Homo sapiens: one gene and its partners. The protein of the gene in region 1 purifies or fractionates together with the protein of each later gene. This does not show direct contact. Each region holds a gene or a part of one and is shown on either strand. Other genes may lie near its edges. The genes, in order: BOD1L1, GTSE1, TACC3, SETD1B, ADNP, ANKRD13B and KLHL7.

Region 1 (4,279 bases):
AAGTTTGTCCCACGAAAATAATCCTGAAAGGGGGAAGAAAACATTGTACGTTACTTTTACTGTTTAAAATGATCAAATCTTGGAAACAACCTAAGCGCTAAAATATAAGGACATGCTTAAATAAATTATGGTATGTACATTATATGTAACACTAGACAATCATTAAATAATTAGGATGCCTAGAAGGTAACATGAAATGAGTAAAATGTTAAAAACAGTTTGCCAGATTACTTGTACTCTAAAAAATTATGTGGACCCGTGGATAAGGAATGAGAGGGAATAAAAAGGATAATTTGTTATAGTGGAGGGATTTTAGATTTTAATTTTAGCCTCCCTTTTTCTTTTTTTGTCATTACTGGCATTTTTGTTATTGCAATTATAAGAAATGGGAAAAGAGAAGAAGAGTAGCTATTACCTAGATAAACGACAAATATATAAATCAACTCAACAAAATGGGCAATTTGGGACATAACAAAATGGGGTTTCAAAAATGCTGAATGTAAGTTGACTTTTTATTTGACTTGAAAAAAGTCAAATTACATTCTAAGTTTTACTCCAAAGGAATAAACAGCCTATATCTAACAAAACAGCATTTGAAATGAGGTTTTATTAAGGCATACCTCACTTGTTTTAAGGGTTTCTTTGGAATCTTCTTCATATTGCTGTTTCTTTTTGGAGTTCTCTTCAACATTCCTAAGGGGGAAAGAGTCAAATATAAAGCATGAATCAAATACGAAAATTTTTCAGGAAGGTTGAAAACAATAAAAATCTTTCCTTTACTATAATTTTTATTTATCTTATTTTATTATTATTATTTTTTGAGGTGGAGTCTTGCTCTTGTTGCCCAGGCTGGAGTGCAATCACGCAATCTTGGCTTACTGCAATCTCCGCTCCTGAGTTCAAGTAATTCTCCTGCCTCAGCCTCCCAAGTAGCTGGGATTACAGGCATACGCCACAATGCCTGGCTAATTTTGTATTTTTAGTAGAGACAGGGTTTCACCATGTTGGTCAGGCTGGTCTCAAACTCCTGACCTCATGTGTTCCACCCGCCTCTGCCTCCCGAAGTGCTGGGATTAAAGGCGTGAGCCACCGCGCCCAGCTGTTTACTATAATTTATACACTTGATCGACAAATGCAGACTTGTTACATTTCAATTTAAATCCTATCAATTATTGGTCAACAAAGGAGAGCACAATCCCAAACATAGCATTAACTGTTCTTGGTGCTAAAGGAAAGTACAGCTGAAACAAAAATTCCTAATTTGTTGCTTAAAGATGAATGCTTTATGGGCTATAATTACACTTCAAAATTACTATCTTTTGAGTAAAGAGGGCAGTCTTATTTATTCAGATCAATAAGGATGAGAGGTAATAATAGTAAGAAATTTGAGAGCTTACTACTCTTACCAAGTTCTGCAAATTATCAAATCAGTTATCCTGAAGTCTGTGATAAATTTACATAAATGCAACTTGATGGAATAGCAAAATTGCAGCCCATGGCTCACATGACTTCATAGCTACCCTCAAGAGTCTCTTTAGCTTTCTAATTCTTAAAAAGTTAACGATGATAATGCAGGGTTAATAAGGAATCTGGCCCAGATTCTGGGTTGGGGGAGAATCATGGAATACTGGTAAAAATAACGGCATGGAAAGACTGGAAATAATAATTGAAAATAAGTGGTTACTGAACACCAACAAGAGGAATACCTCCAGGGAACTTCTAGAGGATTCATAAACTCTTAAAGTCTAGGGATAATTGTTAGCTTATGCATGTACATTTTTCAGGGGAGAGGGTCTAAAGCTCTCACCAAATTATCAAAAAGATCTGGGACGCCCAAAAAGATTAGGATACACTACTTAGAAATGTTATAGATATTAACATTTTGATACTAAATATGAAACCCTAAGGTCCTTCATAAACATGCAGTAACATACACAACCAAAGTACAACTCTTTACTGTCACTTCAATTCCTCTCTTCTGAAAGCACCCAGGGGAGTGTTATAAGGGAAACATGACCAGATAAAATATGTACCTTGAATCTTTTTTTCTCTTTTTGCTTAAGGCTACTTTTTTTTCTAAAACTTTCCGTTCTTTAAGGACTTCTTTAATTCTGGCGGCTTTAGGTTCCAAACTCTTTGTTGATGATTCTTCTAAGTCCACACTACTCCTGCCTAGAAAAGAAGCAATCAATAAAACGTATTTCAGAAAAGTTTTACAAACAATGTAATATTAATTTTTCATTAAGATTTTTCTAATCATTGTTAAAGCCAAAATGGCTTTAATATTCTTAAGTTGTGCTGGAATAGATATAATATTTTGGATGAAGAAGTCTTATCTCTCTTATTTCAAATGATCACATAAGTGTGTGTATGTGTGATTTCATATATTACATAGGATTAGTGCCCAGAGGGAATACAATTTTGTTCAACACAATATTACAGGGAAATGTTTGACATTTTAGTTAACATAAGCATAGATTAATTTCATTAATCACCAGCAAGGGTTGATAACTCATGTGTTAACAATCTACTTTCCAGTGATTCAATCATTACAGAAAAATATACTGCTAACAAATGAGTTGCATAAGCTGGTTTCTGGTAAAATGTTTAATTTAGATTTAGCAATTTAATAAAAAAGAAAAATGATGAAACACATGAGATTAAAACGTAAGGAAATCTTCCACATTTGAGACTAGATCATTTTATTTTATATTCATGTCTCATAAGTAATATAAGAGTACCCAGAAAATAATGAAATATATGAGATAGTTTAAAATATTAAAAGTTGACATCTATACCTTGACCCTTGGTTTTTGAAGACTTTGTCTTTTCTGCTTTCTGTTTTCGTTTTTCTTCAAGTTTTTCTCTATTGATTTGCCTTCTTAAAAGCCTCTCTTCTTTTTCTTTGGCCTAAAACCACAAAATACCCTAACAGATTATTAGGCAAAGGCAAAAACACACTGAAAAATTGTATTTTTTTTAAAGTTTTAGTTTACCCTTCAGATGTTCTTACAAATTAACGGGCTCTGAAAAAATGCACATACACTACATATATATACACACATTTATCTCTGTGTGTATACATACATATGTATGTGTATGTTTCAATCTAGAAGCTACCAGAATAGAAGAAACAGATGTGAAAATTTGCCATTACTCTTTAAGAATGCCATTAAAGAAAGGGAAAGGTATAATTTTGGGGAAAAGTGATTAAATAAGCTGGTTGTTTCAATTAAAATGATAGCTGTGAAAATATCTATGAACATCAAGTATATATAGGTAGGTGTTTATAACTTTTCAACTGTTCTTATAGAAAACAGTTGAAATAAAAATTCAAGTGATAGGCTAGTTCTACAACATATATGACTTGCTGGTTATATGCTTGGGACCCAAGGGACTCAGGACTTGCAGGTCTTTTACAGCAGAAAGAATTCACAGTCATTGTGCTATTCCTACTATCTCTTTCTGGCTCAGAGTGCCAAAAATCCTAAGCAGGTGCATAACTTCTAACCAAGTAATGTTTTCAAAAGATAAGCCTGAAGGGAAGGCTAATCACTACTAGCATTTTGGGGTAGTTTCTTCAAATCATTTTCCTATGTGACAATATTTCCTGATTCTGAACTTTTCATATTTTACAACTTTTCATATTTTAATGTTTCTGAAATTGTAAGCTATCTTAAAACCAATATACATATGTAACAATAAGGTAGTAATTTTCTTTAAAAAGCTGTTATTAATTCAGTGGTACATTTTATAATTGGAAATATTTTTGAATCCAAGAAATAGGTAAATAGCATTTCCATATCAATAGTATGTTAATAGCTGCATACTGTATTTTTGCAGGACTGGATCTACACTTGATTTAAACATTTCCATACTGTGAAGCACTCAGGTTGTTACCAGTTTCACTACTACAGGTTGAGCATCCCTCATCTGAAAATCTTAACTCTTTGAGCACTGACATGCTGTCACAAGTGGAAAGTTCCACACCTGACTTCATGTGACAGGTGGCAGTCAAAATGCAGTCAAAACTTTGTTTCATGCACCAAATTATGAAAAACATTGTATCGAATACTCTTCAGGCTATGTGCATATACATATAAGAAACACAAAGGAATTTCATGTTTAGACTTGCATTCCATCCCTAAGATTTGTCACTATGTATATGCGAATATTCCAAATTGTGAAAAATTCCAAAATTTGAAACACCTCTGGTCCCACCCATTTCGGATAAGGGATATTCACTTGTATTAGTAATGATGACACAAACATCTCTGTC
Region 2 (4,279 bases), on another chromosome or scaffold:
TTTCAGGCCTCTTGACGTTGTCTCACAGGACACCGAAGCTCTGTTCTTTTTTTTATTTCAGCCTTTTTTCTTTTTCTTATCTTTTTTCTTTTCTTTCTTTCTTTTTTTTTGTTTTTTGTTTTTTGAGACGGAGTCTCGCTCTGTCACCCAGGGTGGAATGCAGTGGCGCGATCTCAGCGCACTGTAACCTCCACCTACCGAGTTCAAGCAATTCTCCTGCCTCAGCCTCCCGAGTAGCTGGGATTACAGGTGCCCACCACCACACCCGGCTAATTTTTTTTTTGTATTTTTGGTAGAGACGGGGTTTCGCCATGTTGGCCAGGCTGGTCTGGAACTCCTGACCTCAAGTGACCCACCCATCTCGGCCTCTCAAACTGCTGGGATTATAGGTGTGAGCCACCGTGCCCGGCCCAGCCTTTTTCCTTGAGCTACAGTTTGGGTAGTTTCTGTTGTCAGATATCATTTCTTCTGCAGTGCCTAACAGCTGTGAAGCCCATCCAGTTAACTTTGTTTCTAACATAATAGTTTCCCCTTATTTCTTCTCATGGTACTTGGGTTTTCTTTTACATCCTCGTGAGCAAATTGATAATGGTTTTAGGGTCTACGATTCTTCTCATACCATCTTCCCCATCATTTTGGGGTCTGTTTCGACTGACTAATTTTGTTTCCGGGTTTTGGCCTCATTTTCCTGCCTCTACATTTTTCACAAGTTTTTCTTGGTTGTTGGATATTGTCAGGTGTACACTTTTGAATGTCTGGATTTTGTTGTCTTTCTCTGAGGAGTTGGGTTGGGCTTGGCAGGCAGTTAAGGTGCAGATCATCCTTCCGAGGCTTTTTATGCTTTGAAGTGGTGGGTCTAGCATAGCCTTTCCGCCTCCCGCCACCGGCGTCCTTCCCAAGGCCTCTGCTGCACACCCGTGTGTCCCGCAAGGCCCGCGAGACCCCTGCACTCCTGCTGCTGCAAGATGACACCTTCTCGGCCCTGTGAGCTCCGCTCGTTGCTCCCTGGTAAGACGGCGGTTTCTCGGCCCTGTGAGCTCCGCTCGTTGCTCCCTGGTAGTTGCTCTTCTCTTGACCTTGAGGACTCCTGCCCTGCACCTGTGCACTGCCTGGTGCTCAGCCAGAGACTCGAGATTCCCTTGGGTTCCTAGAGCTCGTTCTGTCGGAGTAGCCCCCTCCTCTCTAGTTTCTGGCCCTCAGATTGCAGCCACCTCAGCCTCCTGAGCTCCAGCCACTGCCTTCTCCAGTCAGTGAGGCCACTGGCCCCAGCAGGTGTCTGGCCATTAGTGGGTGGGTGTTTGTAAAGTTTTCATGAATTTCTTGAACAATTGTGTGCAATGCAGAAAGTTCTCAGAGCTGACTTAAGGTGAGAGGAGCGTCCTGGCCTCCTCTGTCAGGCAGATCTGCCCTCTGGGTGCTTGAGGATTTTAAGTTCTGGCAGTGCCGGCCAGCACAGGCAGCCTGCAACTCCCAGAAACTGCATTCTGAGTCCTGCTGTAGGAACAAGCTGTTCTGCTGAGTGTCTTCTCTGTGCTGGAATGCTTTGGGGGACAAGGGACATCATGATAAGACAGACCTACTCTCACAGAATTTCTGTTTAATAGGAAAAGATACGAAATGTTATCAGATGAGCAGGCCTGCAGATCCTAGCACAACAAAGGGACTAAGGGAAGATGGTGTCCTGGAGCTGGCATGTTTGGGGAGGAATTTGCATCGGGTGGTTCTTTGGCAAAGATGGTCAGGAGGTGACACGGGACTGAGATCTGAACCAGGAGACTGAGGCAGCCGGTAGGAAAGTGCAAGGGGGAGCACTCCAGGCAGAGGCAACGGCAGGAGTGCAGAGGTCCTGGGGCAGGAAGGCGTGGGACGTGCTCTGGGAGCAGCATGGGGGCCGGAGGGTGGGAGTGCAGCCGCTGCGGTCGGGATTCTGCGTAGACGTGCGACAGCTGGTCAGTACTCCTTGGTGTCAGGGACCCAGGCTTACTCCATCCTGTGCTGCCGTGATGAGCTTCTCATCCTCATGGTCTAGTGTGGCTGCACCGGCTCTGGCCCTCATACCTCCCGGCAGGAAGCCTTCTTCTAGGTGAAGAAGAGCAAATCCCCACCTTTCAAGGACCCTCACTGCAAGTTGTCCCTGTGACTCCGTTTGTGTCCCATTGAGTACGACGCTTCCCTGCACAGGATGCTAGGACACGTTGTCTTTATTCCGCACACAGCTGAAATTTCTTACTGAGAAGAGGAAAGTTGCTGTTGAACAAAAACTAGCAACCTCAGCCAGTCAGTGACCGAGGGGCAGGGTAAGAAGAGATGAAGATGGAGGGGCAGCCCGAGGCCGGCTCCCAGAGCGCCGCGTGACCAGAGCGGACCCTGGAGTACCGTCAGTGCAGGAGGACGTGCATAGGAGAGATCAGAGCAGAGCGACTTGACCTTCAGAAGGTCCCTCCACAGAGGGAAGAGCAGAGTCTCTGGGCCGAAGAGTGGTGGGGAGGGTAATGCGGACCTGGCCCTCACTGTGTTGGGGAGGAAGCTAGTGCTGGGGAAGGAGGCTGGAGCGCTGCGGTCTGCCTGACGTTCTGGTAGCTTAGGGCTCATGTGGCAGTGCAGAGAGGGACTCGAGTGTCCCTGAGGTTCTGGCGGAACCTGGGTGCTGCCACTCATGTGACAGGAGGGCTGGAAGAGGCAGCGGGCAGAGTCCACGGCCCCATTTTGGAAGTAGTGAGGGTGAGAGGCCACTTAGGCTGCAGCTGAGGGGTGGAGCAGGCTGAGAGCTCAGAGGAGAAGCCACAGCTGGAGACCTCAGTGTAGGTTTCAACAGCAGAGAGCTGAGTTTGTAGAGATGGGAGCTGTGAGCTGGGCACGGTGGCTAACTCCTGTAATCCTAGCACTTTGGGAGGCCGAGGTGAGCAGATCACCTGAGGTCAGGAGTTCGAGAGCAGCCTGGTCAACATGGTGAAACCCTGTCTCTACTAAAAATAGAAAAATTAGCCAGGCATGGTGGCGCATGCCTGTAATCCCAGCTACTTGGGAAGCTGAGGCAGGAGAATCACTTGAGCCAGGAGGCAGAGGTTGTAGTGAGCCGAGATGGTGTCACTGCACTCCAGCCTGGGCGACAGAACGAGACTGTCTCAAAAAAAAAAAAAAGAAAGAAAGAAAGAAAAGAAATGCGAGCTGTGATTGGGTGGGTTCTGCAGGGACACCCTACGGCCCAGGTCATGTGGAGGTGTGTTCAGTAGTGTTTGCTTCCCTTCTGCCTGAATGCCTGGAGCCAGGACATGCGTCTGCCATGTCTCTCCTGACCACGTTGGCACAAGTGTTGGCTGGTCTCCTGGCTGTCGGGCTGCTTGATGCCACAGGACTTCTGCTAATCCCAAATCCCTGTTGGCTTTGCCCTGTTTCCCAGAGCGTGTCCCTGCGGTCTCCTTACGCACCTCTCAGATGTGCATTTCACCTTCGGCAGGCGGTTCCTCCTCTCTCCACAATGCTGGGAACAGGACTGTCTCTTGCACGCCTTTGGTCATTCATCAGGGTCAAAACTGGTCCCACAAACTCAGCACTGGCCGGAAGAGAGGCCCCAGGGGAGCAGCCACGCTGTTGGGAACACACAGCTCTGGGAGGCACGTGGTGGTGTGCACTTTTTGGCTGAGAGCACTGGTGGTGTTGCTCATTGGCTGTGACACCAGCTGTCACCGTGGAGGAGAGGTGAGGGCTGAGGGCACTCACAGCGTGGGACCACATGAACGGTGCCCTGTAGTGGAGGCTTTCATATGTGCACTTTCTCAAAATACTCGAGGCAAGCAGCATTCTTTGTAAAACAGTCCAGTTACAAATGTTGCTATTTACTATGAGTCCATGCTGCCGGGTCACCCAGAGGATTGAGACTTGGAATTCTGGCTGTGGGCTTTGCCTCCCCGGTACTGGGAGCTGCAGTGGAGACGCGCCGTCCAGGTTTAGGGAAGAGCTGATGTGGGCCTGGGAGGCGTGCGTGCTCAGGCAGCCCTAGGGCAGTCGTGAGGGTGTCAGGAGATGGCTTGTTCGTGTTCTGTTTCATAAGAATGACCTTCCCGTGCCACCATGGAAGCTGCTGAAGAGTGCGCTCCACCCAGCTGAGGGAGAGGACAACCGAGAGGAAGGGGTCTCGGGAGAGAGGGAGCCAACACGGGAGGCGGCAAGGGAGAGGGAGGCGGCGAGGGAGAGAGAGGTGGGCTTGCCTCCACACCCGCCAGGAGTGACCAACTTGGGTCTCACAGAGACCTCTGTGAATGGTGCGGGGTCAGTGACC
Region 3 (4,279 bases), about 12 Mb from region 1:
GATTCTCCATTTAAAATTCCTGGTTCTCTTCGCCCCTTGCTTCTAGTTTCAGTAAACAATTTTCCCGCCAGTCCTAATCAGTAGTTCACATCTGTTCCCTGGTCACCTGCTCCATCCTGACTCATCCCGGTCACCTGCTCTGACCTAAGTCACCTTGAGTTACCTGTTCCTAACCGTCCTTCCCGTCAAACTACTCACCCCACCACTCTGACTCTTACCCTGCCCTCTTTAAAATAGCCAATTGGAATTGGCTTAGACTGTGTGGTCCAACCTTAGCCAACAGGGGAACAACACAGCAGTAGGGCTACCTGTGTCAGGAATAAGAACCCCTTCCCCTCCCTTGTTCAGGTGTGCTCTTGCCATTGCTCCATCTGCGAGGGGCACCCTTTCTGCAGAAAGTAAAAACTGCCTTGCTGAGAAAATTAATGTTCGAGCACTATTTCTTTGTGGCACCAGAGAACAAGCATTGTGCATTTCTAACATAAGTTACATGCAGGGGCCACCTGCCCCCGGAGCCCAGGCCTGCAGAGGAGGGGGCCAGCCACACTGTGGTCCCCAGGCCTGCTATTGGGTTACTCACACGGGCTCTGACACAGGGAAGGAGGTTGTTGGGGTACGGGGTCAGGGCCACATCACAGGCCTCTGCGGAGATGACACCTGGGGCCACTGTGAACAACACTGGTGTGGATGTTGGGGCTTGAACCCAGCCCTGCCAGCCGGCCTCCGGAACCACCCTGTCTGCACCTCCCTGGGGACCATCTGGCGACGGTAGCTCACAGTGGTGCCTGCAGACACCCAGCCCCTTTGTGTGCCTACAGCTCTCTTAGGGACAATTTAGGCCCGGAGTTAGAACAGGCTGAAGCCTGGCATGTACAGTGAGGATGGAGGGAGACAAGGCACGGGACCCTCAGATGTGGGGTGGGTGAAGATGGAGCTTCCTAAGCTGCCAGGAGATGCGTCTGGACTCGTGGGAGGGCGGGAGGAAAGGGGCGACACTCGGGCTCACGGCAGCAAGAACCACACTCACTGCTGCAAGGCCACCAGAGGCCAACGCCATGCCCAGGCCGGAGAGTCCCGGGGAGGCTGCTGGTGGGCAGCTGACTGCGGGGACACTGGGTGGAAGCCTGGACCCTCAGCGACCTGGGCAGTAGTGACAGGCCAGGGGCCGGCAGCTCTCTGCAATTCCACCCCAACCAGCAGGGGCAGGGATGGCAGGGATGGCGGGTCAGGCTGTTGGACCCCTGCCCACTGTTGGCCAAGCCCCAGAGCGGCCTGCAGGTTCTGTGGAATAGCTACTACCTGCGTCCTTACCACTGCATCCAGGTCCTTCTGGCTGTACTGGAGCAGGTCCACTATAGGTCCGGTGGACAGGGGTGGGCCCCCAGGCGCGGGAACACCTGGGGGTGGGCCTGGCACCTGCGGGAGATGGGGATGAAACAGGAACCCATTTCGCCCTTGCCTCTTACCTCTGACCTAGTGTGAGGGAGGAAAGGCCCACACAGGCCAAGAGCCTCAGACAGTGCATGAGGGACCCGAGACAGTGCGGCGAGGGAACAGCACAGCGGCCCCATGCCCCCAACAAAACCAAAGGCTCAGACCCCCAGGAATAGAAAATATAGGCCCTTAAAACAACTCGTTCCCTCAGACCACACACAAGACAGTTCAAGAGGGACTCAAGGACTTACAGGAATGTCCAGTGCTCCCAAGAAATCGAACTCCACAAGCTTGGCTTCCCGCGGACGTCCTGAGGGAGTCTCATTTGCACCGTGCATGCTGCCACCAAGCAGAGGCAGCCTCAGTCACTAGGCCCTCCCAGTGTTGAGTAGGACACAGAGGACCATGTGGACAAGCTAACCGGGCTCTTTGCTTTTTAGTTTAAAACCACTCAAGTCAGGGTAGTGGTAGAAAACGCAGACCCGCATCCAGCATGCCCGGCCTCTCTGCTGCTCCGTGCCCCCCTCCCTCACCTGCCCATCCCACGTGGCTGCTTGTCCTTCCGGGAGAGCACGGTGACGCTTCATTACCCACTGCAGGCTGAGCGGAGCCAGTGCTGCCTCATCAGGGGGCTGTTCACAGCTCAGAGCCTTTTTTTTTTTCTTTTTCCGAGACAGGGTCTCACTCTGTCACCCAGATTGGAGTGCAGTGGCATGATCTCGGCTCCCTGCAACCCCTGCCTCCCAGGCTCACCCGATTCTCCTGCTTCAGCAACCCAAGTAGCTGGGATTACAGGCGCCTGCCGCCTCACCCGGCTAATTTTTGTTATTTTTAGTAGAGATGGGGGTTCACTATGTTGGCCAGGCTGGTCTCAAACTCCTGACCTCAGGCGATCCACCCGCCTCAGCCTCCCAAAGGGCTGGGATTCCAGGTGTGAGCCACTGCGCCCGGCCATGTGTTAGGATTTGAAGGCCACACAGCCTCTGTCACACTACTCAGTTCTGGCCTTGTAGTGTGAAAGTTGCCACAATTTGCAAAGGAACGGGCATGGCTCTGTGACGATAAAACTTTACACAAACAGGCAGTGGCCAAGTCTGGCCCACAGGTGATAGTTTGCTGACCTCTATTTTTTGGTTTTTTTTTTTTTTTTTTTTTTTGAGATGGAGTCTCACTCTGTTGCCCAGGCTGGAGTGCAGTGGCGCAATCTCAGCTCACTGCAACCTCCGCCTCCTGGGTTCAAGCAATTCTCCTGCCTCGGCTTCCCAAGTAGCTGAGACTACAGGTGCATGCCGTCACACCCGGCTAATTTTTGTATTTTAGTAGAGACGGGGTTTCAACATGTTGCCCAGGCTGGTGGCAAACTCCTGAGCTGAGGCTATCCATCCACCTCGGCCTCCCAAAGTGCTGGGATTACAGGCGTAAGCCACCGCGCCTGGCCTGCCGACCTCTGTTTTAGAGGAAGTACTCTTAAAAGATTTAAGTTTAGATCTTTAATATACCTAGAACGGTGGCTGTAACCAGCAAGGCAGCAGCCCTGTGGCTGGAGGGTAGGCTGCCGTTGCTCCTGCCAGACACACAAGGGCTGCTCTGGCCTTGCTGCCCAGCCCACCCCTAGCACAGCTCCTTTCCAGTTCTGATCATCTCCCCCCGGTCTAGAAGCCTCTGTGCAGACAGCACACCTAGGAACAGCCTCCAGTCTTCCCACACTCAAGGCTTCATGCATGAGGGAGGGCCGGCGCACATACCTGCTGGTCTCGGTGGCCACGGGCACTGGTCTACCAGGACTGTCCCTCAGGAGGGGGTCGAACTTGAGGTATAAGGACTGCTTCCTCAAGGCCGACTCCTTAAACTGGGGACAAGAGGGCAAGTGATCAGGTCTGACTGCCATCCCCTAACACACACGGGGGCTAAGGGCCAGGGAGGTCACCTGCACACTCCCACCCCCGGTCACCCGCACACTCCCACCCCCGGTCACCCACAACCCTGCCCGAGACACCACCATTCCCAGCAGCACAGCGTGTCAGAGTTTCATCCTGGGCTAGGCACCAGGTAGAGAGCCCTAGAGCCCTGCCACAGGACACCACTTAGAGGAGGTGCTGCAGAAGGGGCCCTGGATTCACAGCCCGCCACAATGCCTGGGCCTGTGTGCAGCTGGGGGGACGTGGGCACCAAGGGACGCTCCGGGGGCAAGACCTGCCGTGGCTGCTCTCGGACACCCTGTGGGTGAGGCTTCGCGGAATTGCCTGGTACCTACCGAGGAAGTTCCAAACTGCTCCAGGTAATCCACCTCCGCGCCCGTGCCTAGAACTGAGAGGAGTGAATCATGCCGCCGCCATCGCCCCTCACCAGGGCCCTAAGGGCGGCGGGCTGGTGTCTCCCTCAGCACTCAGTGAGGCAGGATCATTCCAGCCAGCAGTATTTCCTCCCTTGGAGGTGTGGATGTTCGGGGCCTGACTGCTGTCTGCGGCAGGCGCCTCCTGGGCACCGCAGGGTGCTGAGCGGCATCCCCAGCCTCTACCCACTCCCTGCCAGCAGCACCTCCAGGTGTGACAACCACAAACATCTGGGGAAAGGCGGGGGCAAAACTGCTCTGGTTGAGAACTATTAGTCTTTAAAATTACCCTAGACAAGTCTTTTAATTTTTGATAATATAACTTTTGATTAAAACTAAGGGTGGAGGCTGAGGCGAGTGGATCACTTGAGCCCAGGAGTTCAACAGGGCAAAACCTTGTCTGTACAAAAAATACAAAAATTAGCTAGGCGCGGTGCTGCACTCCTATTACAGGGAGGCTGAGGCAGGAGAACTCCTTGAGCCTGGGAGGTGGAGGCTGCACTGAGCTGAGAT
Region 4 (3,353 bases), on another chromosome or scaffold:
GGGTTCAAGCGATTCTCCCACCTCAGCCTCCCAAGTATCTGGGATTACAGGCGTGCACCACCACACTCGGCTAATTTTTTTGTATTTTTAATAGAGATGGGGTTTTACCATGTTGGCTAGGCTAGCTCGAACTCCTGACCTCAGGTGATCTGCCCTCCTAGGCCTCCCAAAGTGCTGGGATCACAGGCGTGAGCCACCGTGCCGGCCGTGTGCATTTTAAATAATGATTACTAATAGGTATTTTTCCTCCTAAAGGTTGCAGTGATTTTTGGCTTCCCCTAATGACACACGAGAGTACCCCAGCCTCCTGCTCCCTCAAATTGGGTTTCCTCCACCTTTTAATATTTGCCAACCTGACAGGGGGAAACGGCATCCTGGGATAATTCACATTTCTCCAGTAGGAAGTGACGTACAGCGTCTTTTCAGGCATATTGCTTTTTGCTAAGGTTTTACGTCTTCTTGGAGACATTTACCGTGGACGCCAACTATAAGCCCTTTATCACCCGTCTACTGGGTCAAGCAGAGCTGAGACTGACTGGGGCACAGCATCTCTGAAATGCCATGAATACAGGATAGATTTAATTCTTCTCAACTTCTACTATTTTATCAGCCCTTTTTCCTCCCTCAAATGCAGACCAGGGGGGCATCTCCTTAAGTGTTAAACATTTCTGAGGAACCACCTACGTTCTTCTAGTGATAGTAAAAGGATACCTGATCTTATTTCCTTCATTGCAGACCTCATGAGTCAGAAACCTGAGGTTTTAAGAAAAAAATCTAGAAATCACACTTAAAAGCTGTGGAAGGTCTAGTGGTGACTATAATTTGGCCCATTTCACAAAACCCACCTACAAGTTCAGGCTGGGCACGGTGGCTCACATCTGTAATCCCACTACTTTGGGAGGCTGAGGTGGGAGGATTGCTTGAGCCCAGGAGTTTGAAACCAGCCTGGGCAACATAGGGAGACCCCGTCTCTACAGAAAAATTTCTTAAAAATTAGCTGGGCATGGTGGTGTGCTCCTGTAGTCCCAGCTACTCAGGAGGCTGAGGTGGGAGGATCACTTGAGCCCAGGAAGTCAAGGCTGCAGTGAGCCATGATTGCACCACTGCACTCCAGCCTGAGGTGACAGAGTGAGACCCTGTCTCAAAAACAAACAAAAAAACCCCTGCTGATCTGAGTGTCTGAGTGGACCACTCCACCCTCCACAGAAGCAGGATGTGCTCCCAACAGAAAGAAAGAATAAAGAGGAGAGGGAGAGAGGAGAGCAAGAGAGACGGCGTATCTGTAAGAAAAGTCAGTATATTTATGGTTTGCTTTATAAAAGTTACTATAATACAATGGTACATAGTATTGAATTCACAAAAATATGAACAAATATTTACATCAAGACACACAACGGAAACACTTCTCTTCAAAACAAGTTACATATGGATGATGGAGTCTACCCGCACAAACATCCCTAAAACTCATTGGTTCTCATCTTTGCAGGGGGAGGGAGAGAAAGCAAAAAATAGCAGAAACCCCCAACTCTTGAAAAGCAGAGATTTGTTCAATGAAAAATGAGGGAGTTGAAAGAAAAATGACTCGACACATATCTTGATTATTGCAAACCACTCTGGGGCTGGGGCTCCTGGGGAGAGGGAGGTCTAGTCCCCTTAGTGAAGGCCAGCCGAGGTTAACACTGGGCACGATGGCTGGGAGCAAGGTGAGGCCAGGGGGAGGGGTGAGGCAAGGGTCCCTTCCCTGGTCTTCTCGAACACCCCCACTTCTTTTATGGGAAGGGGACAGAATGGAGACAGCCCTTTGGAGGCTGTACATGTAACTTGAATCAGCCGTCTCTACAAGCTACGCATTTCCTCATGTGAAAAATAAATTATTTCCTCAGTTGCACAATTAGGCAGAAAACCGCAAACGGAAGAGAAGTTCGCCGCTGTGCCCAGGTACCCCATCTGTGTCTTGTTGCCACCAATTTCCTTGATCTTGAAACCGGCGGGCACAGTCTCAAATAGAGAGGGCCTGGGGGAAAGGAATAAAAAAAAAACAACAAAAAACACACAACAAAACCACCAACAACAAAAAAGAGAAAAATAACAATTCTTTGTACAGAATTTACATGATAACAAGCTTGACACAAGCTGAGATACCAGAGGCTCCGGCCGCCTGCGTCCGCAGGGTGGGAGCAGCTCCCTCATGGAGCGCGCTCATCTTGATGAGGACTCCGGGTCACAACAGTCACTTTCCAGAAATTATTTACACGCCTCCTCTGCTTTCTGGGGTACGGGGGGACTTGCTTTTGTCTTTTTTTTCCTTTTTTTTTGGAAGTACAAAGAAATGAGCAAAAAATGTCTTCCCGCATGTTTCTACAAGAAACAATGTTCCCAAGAGAAAGTCCTTTGCGGCAGCCTCTATATACAGAAGTTGGTTCTGAACTTCAAAAACCTTTTTCCCCTTCCTTTTGATTTTATACACGCACAAGAAAAAAAAAAGCCATGGGAATAAATTCTGAAGAGATGGGAAGGGGGTCAAAAGGGAAAAAAAAACCGTCAAGGCTTAGATTTGTGTTTTTAAATCTTTTCCAAGATTTTCCTTTCTCTGGGAGAAGTAATCTGCTCCCTCCGAAAATAAATATGCTCTGGCCTTCTTAGGTTGAGGGGCTGCCGGCAGGGGGATGTGGGGTGTGGGTTGGGGGTGAGTGGGTGAAGCTTATAAGCCAAAAAATGCCACACGCAGACGGTCTGACAACCCGTAATGGCGGGACTGGGGGACCCGCCTGCCCTTGGGAGCCCTGTCCCACCCAGGGCGAAGGCAAGGGCAGAAGAGAGTGGCTGCCCGCGTTCTCAGCGCCCCTCACCTGCACTGGGGCCTCCGAGAGGCTCCCGCGTTGCTGGCATCCGAATGAGAAAGTAAACATTGAACCCAAGGTTTAGGGGGTGCTGGGGTGTGAGGTGGCAGGGAAAGCCCAGAGCGGAGACCCCTGCCTGGGACAGCTTAGCTCCATCAGGGTCCACCGGGTCAGTGGTGCCCCAGGCCTCTGGGGAAGGAACAGGCTGCAGCTCGGGTGGGGAAAGGTGTGGGGTCTCCTCACTGTGCCCACGGGCAGTGAGGGGCGCTTTCAGGGCGTAGTGTTCTGAGGTCAAGGCCGTGGGGGCCTCCATCCTTCCCACAGCACCTGGCCCTGCGTCCAGGTCCGGGTGGCTTCCAGGACACGGGCCACGCACAGCCACACTGAGGCCTCTGCAGACCCCCGCGGGGCCCCTCTCTGATTCCACCTTCACATTTCAACGGTTAAATGTCTTTTCTCACAACGAGGAAAAAAATAGAGAAGACAAAACAACGTAGCAGCATTCACAGGAAG
Region 5 (4,279 bases), on another chromosome or scaffold:
TGTGGAAGGGGACCCGGGCAGGTTGCCGTGTTTGTGTTTTAAGCTAAGTGTTATTACAAAAGATTCAGAAGTTAAGAATTTTAAAGTTTTACTTTTTATGTAGCCTAAGTGTGTTTATAAAGTCTACAGTGATGTACAATAATGTCCCTTCATATTCAGTCACCACTCAGAGCAACTTCCAGTCCCGCAAGTGCCCAATATAGGTGTACCAATTTTTCTTTTATATTGCATTTTTACTGTACCTTTTCTATGCTTCACTATGTTTAGAAACACAAATACTTACCATTGTGTTAATCACTCTTATAGTATTCAGTATATAGTATTCTCTTATAGTAACATGCCATACAAGTTTGTAGCCTAGGAGCAACAGGCCATACCATATAGCGTAGGGGTAATAGGAGGCTATACCACCTAGGTCTGTGTAAGTACCCTTTATGATGTTTGTACAACAATGACATCACCTAACAGGGCATTTCTCAGAATGCATCCCATCATTAAGCAATGCACGACGGTATTATACGCTGTAAATAACTGTATGTGCTATACTTCTATGACTGGCAGCACAGGTGTGTTTACATTAGTATCACTACAAACATGAATCATATGTTGCGCTATGATGTCATAAGGTAGCAAGTTTTTCAGCTCAATTATATTCTTATGGGACCACTGTCGTAGATGTAGTTCATCACTGACCAAAATGTCGTTATGTGGTGAATGACTGCGGTAAAATTCAGGGCCCACGATGTTTTAGTGCAATTAGACAATTACAAGAGATAAAGCTATATCTTTTATTCCTTTCCTCATTATGGATAAATTTTCATAGAAAAAAGGCAAATCTCCATTTTTTCCTCTGATTAAAGTACAGTGTAGTATCAGATTCAGCGCTGATCAAAAGAAAGACTGATTTGAAAAGTTGGCTTTCTTCTATAAGCCTTGCTGTTCCTTCTCAACCAAGAACACTTCAAAAGAGCTAATGAAGTAATAGCTGCTTTGATTCAAATCAAGAAGTTAAATAAAAATGTCCTACAGACTGTGAGGAGGGTGAGGTATTTAAAAGCCAATAATACATTATAGAATATACTGATATCAAAGAGCAACTTTCAGAATTATGATTGTTAACACCTATGCAGTCAGTCCTTTGATGAAGGCAGGTGAACTGACATGCTTGGTAAGAGATTATCTTTTCTCCCTAGAAACCTACTTGTTTCAGATACTGGTTTGAACCATGATGAAATACTCTGCTTCTCCTCAAAGCTCAACTCTTCTTTAGTATTCAGCTATGAGGCTTTCAGATTGATAAAACTGAATTAAATAAATGATGTGTCCCACTGGAAAGCATTCTCATTCTAAGACTGCTGGTTAGTAACTTTGCCTGGGGTATTTAAAAAAAAAAAAAAAAAAAAAAAAAAGTCAAATATCTGAGTACTAATTTCCTGAAAAGTATGTTCCGATAGATGAACAGATCATTAATGCAGAATGAGAATCACTCCTAAAATAGGTAATGGTAAAAATTAAATTGACAATTACCTCTCTCTATGCAGAAGGAAATATCACCTATATGACATCATCATCATCTATTGATACTTGCTGGCAGTGCTAATATTGTTTTTAATGCCAATTTGTAAGAAGTTTTATCTCTCTGTCACTGACATCCTACAGAGTCACTTCCCCAGGCCTCCCATAGAAGTTGGGTGCCATCAACATAGGGAAATAAGAAAAGCTTAAATGTAAGGAAGGGTCTTGTCTTTTTCTGTGCAGAAAAAACAAGAATGGCAACACAGATGCAGAAAAATAGAGCCAGAGCACTTTTAGGGGAAATGGTGGGATACAGCAGGCTTCGTAACTTTTAAGTAACAAAATTTTGTTTCTTCTTACACCTCAAGTTTTAGTCCAATGACAAAAAAGGACAAAAAGTTTTTCTTAGTCTTCCCACTGGTCAGGAAAATATGAAATGCAATTTTGACACTTTCGATGTTTGGCACTTGCCCGCAATCACTGCACCGCTATAAAAGGCCTAGAGCTGAAAAGGGAGTATACCAAGCATGCTGCCATCTGAGGAAGTCTCCTGTGCCACTTACCTGGTTTTTCGTAAGTGATGGGTCCCACAGTCCTACATCCTCCCATGTAGTGTTTTTCAAATAAAAGTCATTAGGTTCAAATTGTTTAAAATCCTAGAAAACAGTGAAATAAGTTTACAAAAACATAGTGGTATAAACGCTAACCCAATCTTACATGTAAATCTCACCTCTTAACTAAGATGGGGAGAGGCACAGGAAAACCAACGTCAACAAGGACTTAAACTAGGAGTGATAAGGCTCTTAAATATAAAAAGGCATATGGAAGTTGCAGTCTACATTTTATATCAACCAACCACTTTCCTGATGGTCAGTCAGGTTTCCAAGGAAATTGCTGGAAGTTCTAATTAAGTAAAAAATTCAGCCACACACTAATATCAAAGCACTTTTCATTAGAGTACTGTACTCTAACTCGTCAGTTACAGTACTGGAATGGTGTCTAAAATAGCAATGTTTGCTTACAGCACTGCAAATATGATTTCTGGTTCTGTGCAAAAAAAAGATTTTTTTCGAGGGGAGGGGGCAGGAGATCAGATCAGGAAGAAAACTCAAATTTCAAACCCAAAAAGGCAGAAAGAAAGCTATTCAAAGAAAGTTAAGCAGTATGATGTTAAATTTATACTCTCATGTAAAAATTTAATGGTCCACTTCCCTCCAGACTAGGAAGATTAAAAGTCTTAGGGTAAAATCCCACTTGTTCCTAAAAAGTTCACAGTTCAAGGTGGAAAATGAAGTCTACACATAAATAATCATAGGAGGAACAAATCAAATGCATGACAGAAATGTACTGTGATGTTGGTATTAATTATTTCTATGAAGATGACCCCACAGAGTGCAAAGTGAATGGACTGTTTCATTTGGGCAGATCTACCTGAACTCTGGGGTTGGAGAAGGGCTACTTCCACACTTGGAACAACGTGACTAGAGAAGTCAACTTTTGAGCAGCTTCTGTTTCCATGCCATACTCTTCAAGTATTATTAGTGGAACTCAAATTAAGAAAACCTGTTGTATGAATGAATTTGCTTTTTTACTTCCAATTCCATTCAAACACTTACTGATCACCTATTACGTGCAAAACACTGTGCTAGGTGCTGGGGCTAAATGGATAAACAAGGTAGCTATGTTCCCTAGCCACCTAGAACTTAAAGGTTAGTGGGGGAAACAGCTTCAAACATTTCTTTTCAATCAGGGGCTCTGACCAACAAACCATAAGACCTGGAACAGTGAGATGTTGAAAAGGAGACCACTGCATGGCTATCCCACAGAGCTGTTATAAAGCTCATAGAATAAAACAGCTTGAAAAACAGTTCATAAAGCCCAAACTGTTATACAAGGGGGAAAGTAATAGTCTATGATGGGTCAAAAGGGGCAACAAATGCTCAAATCCTAAGGAAAGAGACAACAAGCACCCACACAAGCACGCCTCAACAATTAGAAGAAGGTCAACCAGAACATTCAGGCGTATCAGAATGAGAACAGGCTTTGAGTCCCACAGACACTGCCACTTTCTCAGCTGCAAGGCTGGGCCTATTTATTTGTTCTTCATCTGTGAAGTGGAGATAAGAACTGCTACACTGCCTCCCGCCTCCATGGTTGTTCTAAGGATTAAATGTATAGACAACTTTACGGCACCTAGTTCAACGCCTGACATGCTTAAGTCCTCAATGGTAGCCTTCTGCTTCAGGATGCAAAAATGAAAAAGCCCATTTTAGGGAGAAAGGCACAAGTTAATGCTATTGAGAATGTTTTCGTGAAGCTACTGCTGTGGCTGAAATTCAGAATCACATCTAAGATTTAGCCATCTTGGCCACTGACACAAAGTAATGGATCAGAAGCTGAGTCATGTTAAAATTTAAAAATGACATGCTACTTACTTCTATATGTTCTTTACAGTATTCCAACCCAATGTCACTAAGTATTTTTTTCACAGTTTTCCGGGCTTTTCTTAAACTGCCAAGATTGTTGACAGGAAGTTGGAACATAGTTTCTATTGGAAAAAAAAATTTAAGTCAAAGTCAAAACACGTACAACTTGTAATATTTACTAATTCCACTGATGATAGGATCATAAAACCTACCCATCTGACAAAAAAGGTGCATAGATATCCTCATCTAGTGTGTACACACACAGACACACACCTGCTTTCATGTGCATATGGCTTGATATATCCATCCATCCATCCTTCCTTCCTTTTCTTAAGACA
Region 6 (4,929 bases), on another chromosome or scaffold:
TGGCATATTCCCTGGCTTACAACCCTGTCCCCCCCGACCTGGCAGAGAACATGCATAGCGGCAAGCAGGGCACCGGGCTGGCATCACAGCACTGCTGGGTGCCCCTTCCCTTCACCAGGCACCTCCTATCTGCCCATCACTCCCTGCTTCCAGCCTCCAGCAGAGCAATTTGGGGCTGAGCAAAGCCCATTAACCTGCTCTGAAGGTGGCCATGCTGGCCCCCTCCTCAGCCAGCTGCACTGCCAAGCCTGCCCACGGAGGGCCTCTGCGGGGCTTTCTTGGAGTGAAGAAGAGGCAGCTATGCCAAGCCAAGACCAGGGAAACCTGGCTCCTGAGTGCTTGAGGAAAGCCGAGCTGTTTCTGTGGCGGCTGGTACCAGGGGGACTAGAGGCCAGGGACCCCTGGCTGGGATGCCAGGGTTCCACAGTGCTTTTCTCATGATGTTAGGTGGCTGTCCCCAGGTCCCCCTTGCAGAAAACAGAGCCTGGTGCCCTGGGGAGTAGGCAGTGTACATCTGGATACAAGCCTCACTCTGGGCCAGTCCTCGAGAGGGGAGACAGCTAGGGAACTCTCCCACCTACACGGAGTGGCATTCCTCTTTTTGGCACGCCTGAGGGAAGGAGAGGACTGGCCTGGCTCCTCTGTGGTTGAACAAGGGTTAACCTCCACCAGTGCCCTATATTCCCCCTGGCCTGGATCCAGGACAGGCAGTGTCCATTTCAAGGAGACATTAACTCACTGGGGCAGGGGTAGGGGTGAATCTGGGACCTTGTTTCTGAGGCAGCCAGAGGGGTGGGAGAGAGAAACACATGAGCAGCCCCCAACACCTCTACCTGCAGCGGCTCCGGTGCCCCCCACCCCAACCTTACCCCAGCAAGATGGCCACCCACTTCAGGATTATCAGCAGAGAGGCCTGCTGGAGAAGTCTTTTCTCCCAGGGCATTCTGCCTCTCTCCAGTCTCTGCAGTAAAAGGACCACCCACCCTCAGGCAAGGGAGTGGGACTGAGGCATTCTGGAGATTCAGCCTTCTGCCTAGTGATCCTTGGACCCCTGGGAAGTTCTTCCCACATGAGGCTTGTCTTCTTTTGCTTTCAGGGAAGGAAAGCAGAGAAGAGCCAGCAGAGGCTGGCTGGCCATGTCTTAGCGCTTTGCACATCACCCTGGAATTTCCTGTTCACACTTGCTTCACCAGAACAGAGACTCCTTGAGGGCAGGGGTTGATGCCCTGTTTGTTCATCTGTTTCCTGGGGGCACTGTGACCCACTCTCTTTAACAGGCTTCTCGTGGCTGCAGAGCACTGCCTTTATGATAGATAAACAAAGACAGGGTCTGAGGAGTTCAGTCTGAGGAGAAACTCGGAGAGTGCTGGCATAGGCACAGGTAACAGGAAGTGGCCACCCAGACCGGCCCAGAGGCCTGCGGGCACAGGTCACTCGCATATTTACAGGGACTGCCATGCAGAGCTGGATGCCATGCAGGCCTGGGGGCTGGCTCAGCGTGGGACTTCAGAGACACATCCTGACCCCCAGCCTGCTCAGTCCGATGGCCTGCCCTCCACCTCCATGCTTCCCTTGGCGATTGCACAGCTCCTCAGACTGAACTTCTCATGACTCAATAAGCAGCCCTCAGAAGGTAAATTCCCACAGCGGGCAACTGCGCTAACCACCCCCAGCCCATGGCCCCAAGGTCTCAGACCCAGTCCAAAACTGGGGTTCTCAGCCTGCAGCAAGCCATGGGACCCGGGCCCAGCTCTGGCTCTTGCAGCCCACCCTGGAGGCGGGGGGTCATCTCTGCCATGAGTGCCTACCTGTGGCCTGGGTGCCAAGGGCAGAAGTGGCAATCTGTGACCTGTGCCTGCCTTTGTTCTGAAGCATGGCCAGAAGACATCCTGAAGCATGGCCAGAAGACATCCCCCCTTCCCCTGTTTTCTGGAGACCACTGCCCAGCCCAAAGCTGGTGACCCACGTGGCCTTACTGACCAGCAGAAACCAGGGAGCCCACCTGGTGCGCAGAACCTCAAGTCCTTCCAGCAGCCAGGGCCCCTCAGCTTCCTCTGCGCCTAGAAACCAGGCCCCAGCACCAGAGGGCAGGAGAGCGCTTTTCAGCACCTGGACAAGGCCCTTGGGGCCTCCCAAGAGGGTCTTTCTCCACTCCCTGTTCCTGAGCTGGGGCTGGGCTCTGAGAGATCCAAGGATCTGCCCAGTTTGAGAGCTAAAAGAGAAAGCGCTCACCGTTGGGGAGAGGGCGCTGGGTGGGGCTGGGGTGCCTGGGAGTGTGACACAGCCTCTTCCCCATTCTTGACCTATGGCCCCCTCCCCACGCAAGCCTTTCCCACCTCCGCACCCTCACTCGGGAGGTGTCGCCGCTCAACTGGCTGGGGCGGACTCTCCCACCACATGGAACACCGACACAGCCCGCAGCCCCTCCCTGCAGCCCTCACTGCCCCGGCGGAGGAGGGGCACAGAGGCCTCTACTCTCATCTAGGTGAGTCCGAAACACGTGTGGTCCCGCCCGTCCCGGCCGGAGGGGATCACCCTTTCCCGGTCAACAAGCACAAAAGCCGCGGCCGCAAACAAAGACGCGCCGCAAACTCGCCAGGGAGGCGGGACAGCCCGCGCCGCACCCCCTCCCCAGGCCGGACGGGCGTGCCCGGCCGCGGGGTCCCCGCGGCGCCCCGAAGGCGCTCCTACCTGGCCCGCGCGGACCTCCTTCTCCAGCTCGCGGTGGCGGTTGTGCCACACGAGGTAGTGCAGCGGATACTTGCCCTCGGGCCCCTTCCTGGCGGAGGCGTTGGCGGGGATCATCGCCCGCTCCTCATGCCGGGGCCGCGGCGCCCGGCCGGGGAGGAGGGACGGCGCCGGAGCCGGGGCCCGGGGCCGCGGGGCGGGGGGCCGGCGCTGCCTGCTCGCGGGGCTGCGGCTCGGGCATGTGCGAGCGGCGGCGGGCGGGGGCGGCGCGCCCGGCGCGGTGCGGGCGGCGCGGGCGACGGGCGTCCTCGCGAGGCGGCGGCGGCGGGCGGCGCGGAGAGGCCCCCACCCGCCCTGGGAGGGAGCGGGCACTCGGCGGCGCTGCGCGGACTCGCGCTCGCCTCCCACACCCCCGCACACAAAGACGCCGCTCGGCGGAGGGAGCAGGCGCCCGCAGCGGGCGCGGGGGCGCACGGGACGCGGGCCCCGGGGACGCCGCCGCAGGGACGCGCGCCCGCAGCCCCCGGGTCCCCACAGCTGCATAGCCCGGCCCTCAGCCCGAGCGGCCGGCGCGGGATACGGGGATGTGGGGATGATGGGGAGAGAGGAAGGGGACCAGGCGCCCCGGGTAGAGCTTGTCAGCTCAGCCCCGCGGCATCATGGGGTTTGTAGTCCGCCTCGTGAAACTGGGGGTGGCAGGTGGCCGAAGAGGGTCTGCACTGTCCCCGGATCTCGTGGGAGAGTGGGCGGGGAGTCAGGCCTGGCCCAGACGCGGGCGGGGCCCTGACGCCAGGTGGGCTGGGACGCACCTCCCCCGCTGGCATTTTGCCTTTTGCTGGGGAAGTGGGGGGGCACGGGCCTAGGTCGAGCGTTTGGGAGACGGGGTGGAGGTGTGGTCTTCAGAATTGAGCTTGGGTCCCAGGGGCCATGAAGAAGGATCCGGATTCCCAGAAGAGAGCGTCTGATTGGGAACTCCTGAGAAAGGTGTGGGGCATCAGTACCAAGGGTCATTGGAGCAGCCAGGGGTCTGGCCCCTGGAACATTTCTGAGGAGTCTTCCCTGCCCTGTTAGAAAATTAAACTCCATCTTCCACACATGTCATTGGAAACAGAATGTCCAGTAACGCGGGAAAGATGGTCCCTTTCCCCCCGCACACTGTCCCCAGCAAGAACCAGAGTGAGGTTGGACAGAAAAAGCAGCAGGTGGCAGCTCCGTTCCTCCACCCAGCTGGCCCTTCAGGAAGGGAAGTGACTGATTCCAGAGACTGTCTCCTTCCTGAATGACCCCAGGGTGAAGAGGTACTTCCAGAATGGTCCCTGCAGAGGGTGTGGTAAAAGTTGAATTGGCCTCTCAAGCGCCAATTGCAAGGCCTGGAAGGACCAAGAGGCTTGGACCAGTCCCTGGAGGGAGGGGACTGTGATGTCAGAGAGACCAGAGTTCGAATAGCTCCAACTGCCTGACCTTAAAAGAGCAAACTGCTTAATTTTTCCGACTTTCTCGGTCCACTCCCCTTCAAAATGAGAATCTAGATACTACCTCCTGGGGTGAGCTAAGGATAATGACTGCCCTGGAAACAGCGCCTCCCTCCCCCAACCAGGCGGGCCGAGACAGGTGGCGGGACCAGGCACGGTGCCTTCTTGAGCCCACCTCAGAACAAGGCAGGAATAAGGGATTCCACACCGGCCCTACTTAAAACAACAATCCAAGAAGTGTTTGTGTGGGAGGTGCCAGCAAAAGCTTGCAAACTCTCTCAGGTTTCTTTGTGTGGTCTTCCCTCCTTCCTCCTCCACACCCTGTGGTGCCAGGCCCCAGCGGGAAGAGATGAGGGAGGAGCGGGCTGCCTCGCCCCTTTCTCCCGCCTGGGAGGAGCCAGCTGGCGTCTCCGGGGGCCCGGGACCGCTGCCCGCCTGCACCACCAGGGGTCAGCAGAGTGTCGTGGCTGCAGCCAGTGCAGGGGAGGGGGCTGGCGCGGTTGAGGGGCATCTAGGAGTGGCCGGGAGCATGCCTGTGCATTTCCTTATTAAATTGTTTTTCGAACCTTGTGTGTGATTCCACTGTAGCAGTCCTGCTTCCTGGGGTGGTGACATCTCCACGGGGGAATCCAGAAACCCTTTTATCTCCAGTCCCAGGCCCAGAAGTTTGGCTGTGACGGGGCTGGGGGAAACAAAGTTTGGACGATGTGTCCGCGCCAGGGCCACTCCCAGGTAGTCTCTGAGCCAACCAGGAGATGGGGAGTGGGGT
Region 7 (4,279 bases), on another chromosome or scaffold:
TTTCGAAACTCTCATTTTTCTCCTATTCTTCTGGTGATTCCTTTGTTATCTCCTCCATAGGCCCATTTTCTATCCTTTATTCTGGACTCTGGACTCTTGACTCTTCACAGCTTCAATGAAGAAGTTATCTTCTATATGCAGATAATTCACAAATATATACATCTAACCCACAACTTTCCAGACCTGTCAATTTGTCATATATACTTCAGTGTCACAATGATATCACAAATTAAACACATCTAAAACACAAATTATAATCCTTTCCCCAATGCTTTGATCCTTTTCCAATACCTCCTTTCTCAGTGAATAGTGTCATCATCCATTTAGTTATGCATTCCAGAACCCTAGAGATCATAAGTGACACCTTATGCTGAATCCCTCAACATCCAATCATGTACCAGCATCACAATACAAATAGCTAACACTTACTGAGATGTTACTTGTTATCAGGTCGTATTTTAAGTTATCTTAATTTGGTTACCTAATTTAGTTATCACAACCACATATGGCAGTTATCATCACCAAGTCCTGTTGATTTTATTATCTTTTTAATCTATCACTTTTTCTTCATTGATGTTGCTTATGGCTGCCACTGTCATCACCTCAGTCCAAAGGACCATCATGTCTCACTGGACCACTACAGCTTCCTATTTGGTCTGCCAGCAAGCACTCTGAAAACTCTTTAATTCATTTACCACAAAGCAGTAAGTCTTTTTTTTTTTTTTTTTTTTTTTTTTGAGACGGAGTCTCACTCTGTCTCCAGGCTGGAGTGCAATGGTGCAATCTTGGCTCACCACAACCTCTGCCTCCCGGGTTCAACCAATTCTCCTGCCTCAGTCTTCTGAGTAGCTTGGACTACAGGCACGTGCGACTATGCCTGGCTAATTTTTTGTATTTTTAGTAAAGATGGAGTTTCACCATGTTAGCCAGACTGGTCTCAAACTCCTGACCTCAGGTGATCCACCTGTCTCAGCCTCCCAAAGTGCTGGGATTACATGTGTGAGCCATTGTGCCAGGCCAAGTCATCTTTTTTAAAGAAGAAAACATACCATCTCTACAAACATGCATGCACATGCACACAAACATGCATACACAGATTTTAGAATAAGGGCAAATCACCTAACTTGACTTATGAAGCTATGCATGGGCAGGTCTCTAGCTACTTCGCCAGTTTCATCTAGAACCATCGTCCGCCTTATGTTCTGTGCTCCAATTACACTGACCTTTAATCAGTCTCGAACTTGCCATTCTATAATAAAGTAGGTCTCCAACTCAGAGCCTCTGAATATGTTGTTCCCTCTACTTGAGTCACTCTTCCCTTTTCTCTTTACCTAGTTAACACCTACTCTTATTTCAGCTCTCAATGACCATTTCCTTAGAGAAAACTTCCTGATGGTCAAATTACCCACCCATATGCCCTCGTTGTACCATGTTATTCTCCTGTGTAATACCTACCACTGTTGCAATATTACATTTATTTGTGTGATTACTTGACTAATGTCTTGCTTTTCTACTAGCCTATAAACCACAAGAGGATTGGGACTGTCAGGGTTTGCTTATCATTGCAACCCCAGAATCTAGCAAAATGTTTAGCATACAGTGGGTTGTCAATAAGTATTCATTTCAATGAATGAACTTGGAAGCCAAATTGAACTAGAGTAATAAATAAATAGTAAGTAAGAAAATGTAGTGAACCGCATGTTCTCACTCATAGGTGGGACTTGAACAATGAGAACACACGGACACAGGAAGGGGAACATCACACTTTGGGGACTGTTGTGGGGTGGGGGGAGGGGGGAGGGATAGCATTAGGAGATATACCTAATACTAAATGACGAGTTAATGGGTGCAGCACACCAATATGGCACATGTATACATATGTAACAAACCTGCACATTGTGCACATGTACCCTAAAACTTAAAGTATAATAATAATAAAATTAAAAAAAAAACAAAAGAAAATGTAGTGAATTTACTCAGCTTTTCATCTTAATGGGGGGAGAGAAGTATTTAGAGGGGTATGTTGAGATTAAGAATGGGTTTGCTGGTTGTTTGGTTCAAAAGCTGGAGAGGTTAAAACAAGCTTAAGTGCTAATAGCAAGAATCCAGCAAAGAAGAAAAGTTAAAGATGCTCAACAAAGATGGAATAACCAACAGTATAATACTTCTGAGAAGCCCAGCATCCAGGAAGCCAAAGCCTAGGTAGAAGTACTGGCCTTAGAAAAAGCAGCAGCATCTCCATTGTAGCAGGATAAGAAGAGAAAAGGGAAAGTGTCAAAATAGGTTTATAGATCTGGTGGTAGAAAGTGAAAAGGTAGACAGTTCTAGACTAATGACTTCTATTTATCTATGGTGTCAAAAGAAGGTGATCTGCTGAAAGTGAGGATCTAGAGAAAGGACTCAGATTGGAGGAAAATAGTAAAACAAAAAGATTGCTCACGGGCACTGATAGTCTAGTGGAAATTAGTGGCCAAGCACTTACTTGGCAGAAGTTGCCCAGTGAGATATTTTCCAGCTGTGCTTGGAGCCTTGCACAAAGAAGGTAATCAGTCATCAATACTCAAGTTTGCCAGATGGACATGAAAAAGGGACAGAGGGTCAAGAAAACTGGGACACTGGAGAGACAGTGGAGTGACAATAGCTTCTAAGCTGGACAGACAGAAAAAGAAAACAGAAAACAGTAAAGTACAGGAAAAAGAATAAGAAGGTCTGGATGACTGGAATTGTCAATGAAAGTTAAGAGAATTAAATGAGACAAAGCATGTAAAACACTCTGCAGAGTGGCTGGAACAGTTATAAGTGCTCAAGAAGTCTTATTAATATCAAGGGTTTAACACTGAAGGTTTAGATTATTCACAAGAGAACCTAAAGATAATGACATGTAGTAATTTACAGTCAGACAGATGAGAATACAGAAGCAAAGTCATTTTAGCCGGAAGGTGAGCCCAGTTAACTGCCCAGTATCTAATTGTGAAATCAGCTTTGTAGTTCTCTCACATAACTCTCAATAAGGACTTTAACATAAGCTTTCAAGTTCCAGTTATGCTTTAATTCATTTAATGTGGAGAAACTATAAACTATGGTGGTACTCAGGAAGGTCTTAAAACATCTTCCTCCAATGTTAAGAGACTCCTGGACTTCATTAACACAAAAGAAGAGTATGGCAACAGCAATGTGCATGTGCAATAGTGACTGTGACCCAGACCTGCCTTGTAAAGCCTCTATTTTACATATCAGGTAATAACATTAATCTAAGCAAAAAGTTAAAGAAATAAATGAAAAGGTACTCAATCCAATTAAATAAGATGCTCCTATACACCCAGTTAGAATGGCTAAAGTGATAAGACTGACAACATCAAGTGATGGCAGGGATGCGGAGCAAAAACCTCTCTCACACACAACTGGCAGAAGCGTAACATGGTACAATCACTTTGGAAAACTACACGACGATATCTTTTAAAGCTGAAGGTGGTATAGCTTATGACTCAAAAATTCCTGTTTGGTATTTCCCAACACAAATATTAATACATACATATGCATACCAAAAGGCATGTACAAAGTGTACAAAAATGTTCAAAGTAGTACTAGTCTTAATAGTTCCAAACTAGAAATAACCCAAATGTTCATAATGATAGAATGGATAAATTGTGCTATATTCATTCAATGGGATACTATATACCACAAGGATGAAGTAGCGCTACACACAGCACAGATGAATCTCACAAACAATGTTGGCTTTAAGAAAACAAAACACAAGAGTTTATGCCATATGATTACATTTATATAAGTTCAAACACAGGAAAAACCCACTTTTTGCCGATGTGCTGCAGACTTTCATGAATGCACCACACACCAAAGACAGAACAAAGAGCTCCTCTTAATAACAGGGGTGCATAGTGCCCTTAGAAGATGGCATGGCATGGTATTTATCAATGGTTGCTTCTGCTCTAACTTCGATGGTTACAGAGTTAGAATAGTTGTTACTACTGTGGGGTTGGTGACTGAGAAGGGCATAAGGGGGGACCTCTGGTGTACTGGTCATGTTCTCGTCTTGTTGGTGGGATGTGCACTTTGTAATAATTGAGCTATACATTTATGATTTGTGCCCTCTTATATGTATCCCATACTTCACTGGAGAGTTTACTTAGAAACAAAAGGCTAGAAATGACAAAAACAATGTAGGAAAAGGCTTTAGAAGAAGCCGAGGCTGCTGGCTCTGCAGAATCCCCTTTTGCCTCTATGTATAGAATCGGCCACTATACTACAGAGAGATGGAATG

What was found.
Region 2: the proteins of BOD1L1 (region 1) and GTSE1 purify together in Homo sapiens (affinity purification with mass spectrometry; one large-scale study listed by BioGRID and IntAct). This does not show direct contact.
Region 3: the proteins of BOD1L1 (region 1) and TACC3 purify together in Homo sapiens (affinity purification with mass spectrometry; one large-scale study listed by BioGRID and IntAct). This does not show direct contact.
Region 4: the proteins of BOD1L1 (region 1) and SETD1B purify together in Homo sapiens (affinity purification with mass spectrometry, with the first as the bait; one large-scale study listed by BioGRID). This does not show direct contact.
Region 5: the proteins of BOD1L1 (region 1) and ADNP fractionate together in Homo sapiens (co-fractionation; one large-scale study listed by BioGRID). This does not show direct contact.
Region 6: the proteins of BOD1L1 (region 1) and ANKRD13B purify together in Homo sapiens (affinity purification with mass spectrometry; one large-scale study listed by BioGRID and IntAct). This does not show direct contact.
Region 7: the proteins of BOD1L1 (region 1) and KLHL7 purify together in Homo sapiens (affinity purification with mass spectrometry; one large-scale study listed by BioGRID and IntAct). This does not show direct contact.

What each region holds. Positions count from the first base shown.
Region 1 is NC_000004.12:13,606,497-13,610,775, forward strand, and holds part of BOD1L1 (biorientation of chromosomes in cell division protein 1-like 1), read right to left. Parts: intron 2,911-4,279; coding exon 2,799-2,910; intron 2,173-2,798; coding exon 2,034-2,172; intron 694-2,033; coding exon 621-693; intron 1-620. UniProt on the Homo sapiens protein: Component of the fork protection machinery required to protect stalled/damaged replication forks from uncontrolled DNA2-dependent resection.
Region 2 is NC_000022.11:46,316,856-46,321,134, forward strand, and holds part of GTSE1 (G2 and S phase-expressed protein 1), read left to right. Parts: exon of another isoform or gene 1-1,008; intron 1,009-4,279. UniProt on the Homo sapiens protein: May be involved in p53-induced cell cycle arrest in G2/M phase by interfering with microtubule rearrangements that are required to enter mitosis. Overexpression delays G2/M phase progression.
Region 3 is NC_000004.12:1,734,735-1,739,013, reverse strand, and holds part of TACC3 (transforming acidic coiled-coil-containing protein 3), read right to left. Parts: intron 3,742-4,279; coding exon 3,689-3,741; intron 3,284-3,688; coding exon 3,180-3,283; intron 1,774-3,179; coding exon 1,686-1,773; intron 1,417-1,685; coding exon 1,312-1,416; coding exon of another isoform or gene 1,300-1,311; intron 667-1,299; coding exon of another isoform or gene 622-666; exon of another isoform or gene 1-621. UniProt on the Homo sapiens protein: Plays a role in the microtubule-dependent coupling of the nucleus and the centrosome. Involved in the processes that regulate centrosome-mediated interkinetic nuclear migration (INM) of neural progenitors.
Region 4 is NC_000012.12:121,830,583-121,833,935, reverse strand, and holds the end of SETD1B (histone-lysine N-methyltransferase SETD1B), read right to left. Parts: 3' UTR 1,280-3,353; downstream 1-1,279. UniProt on the Homo sapiens protein: Histone methyltransferase that catalyzes methyl group transfer from S-adenosyl-L-methionine to the epsilon-amino group of 'Lys-4' of histone H3 (H3K4) via a non-processive mechanism.
Region 5 is NC_000020.11:50,899,939-50,904,217, forward strand, and holds part of ADNP (activity-dependent neuroprotector homeobox protein), read right to left. Parts: intron 4,064-4,279; coding exon of another isoform or gene 4,059-4,063; coding exon 3,951-4,058; intron 2,172-3,950; coding exon 2,079-2,171; intron 1-2,078.
Region 6 is NC_000017.11:29,591,498-29,596,426, reverse strand, and holds the start of ANKRD13B (ankyrin repeat domain-containing protein 13B), read right to left. Parts: upstream 3,296-4,929; 5' UTR 3,232-3,295; coding exon of another isoform or gene 2,806-3,231; coding exon 2,692-2,805; intron 2,545-2,691; exon of another isoform or gene 2,233-2,544; intron 2,208-2,232; exon of another isoform or gene 1,899-2,207; coding exon of another isoform or gene 1,809-1,898; intron 1-1,808. UniProt on the Homo sapiens protein: Ubiquitin-binding protein that specifically recognizes and binds 'Lys-63'-linked ubiquitin. Does not bind 'Lys-48'-linked ubiquitin.
Region 7 is NC_000007.14:23,108,279-23,112,557, reverse strand, and holds part of KLHL7 (kelch-like protein 7), read right to left. Parts: intron 1-4,279. UniProt on the Homo sapiens protein: Substrate-specific adapter of a BCR (BTB-CUL3-RBX1) E3 ubiquitin ligase complex. The BCR(KLHL7) complex acts by mediating ubiquitination and subsequent degradation of substrate proteins. Probably mediates 'Lys-48'-linked ubiquitination.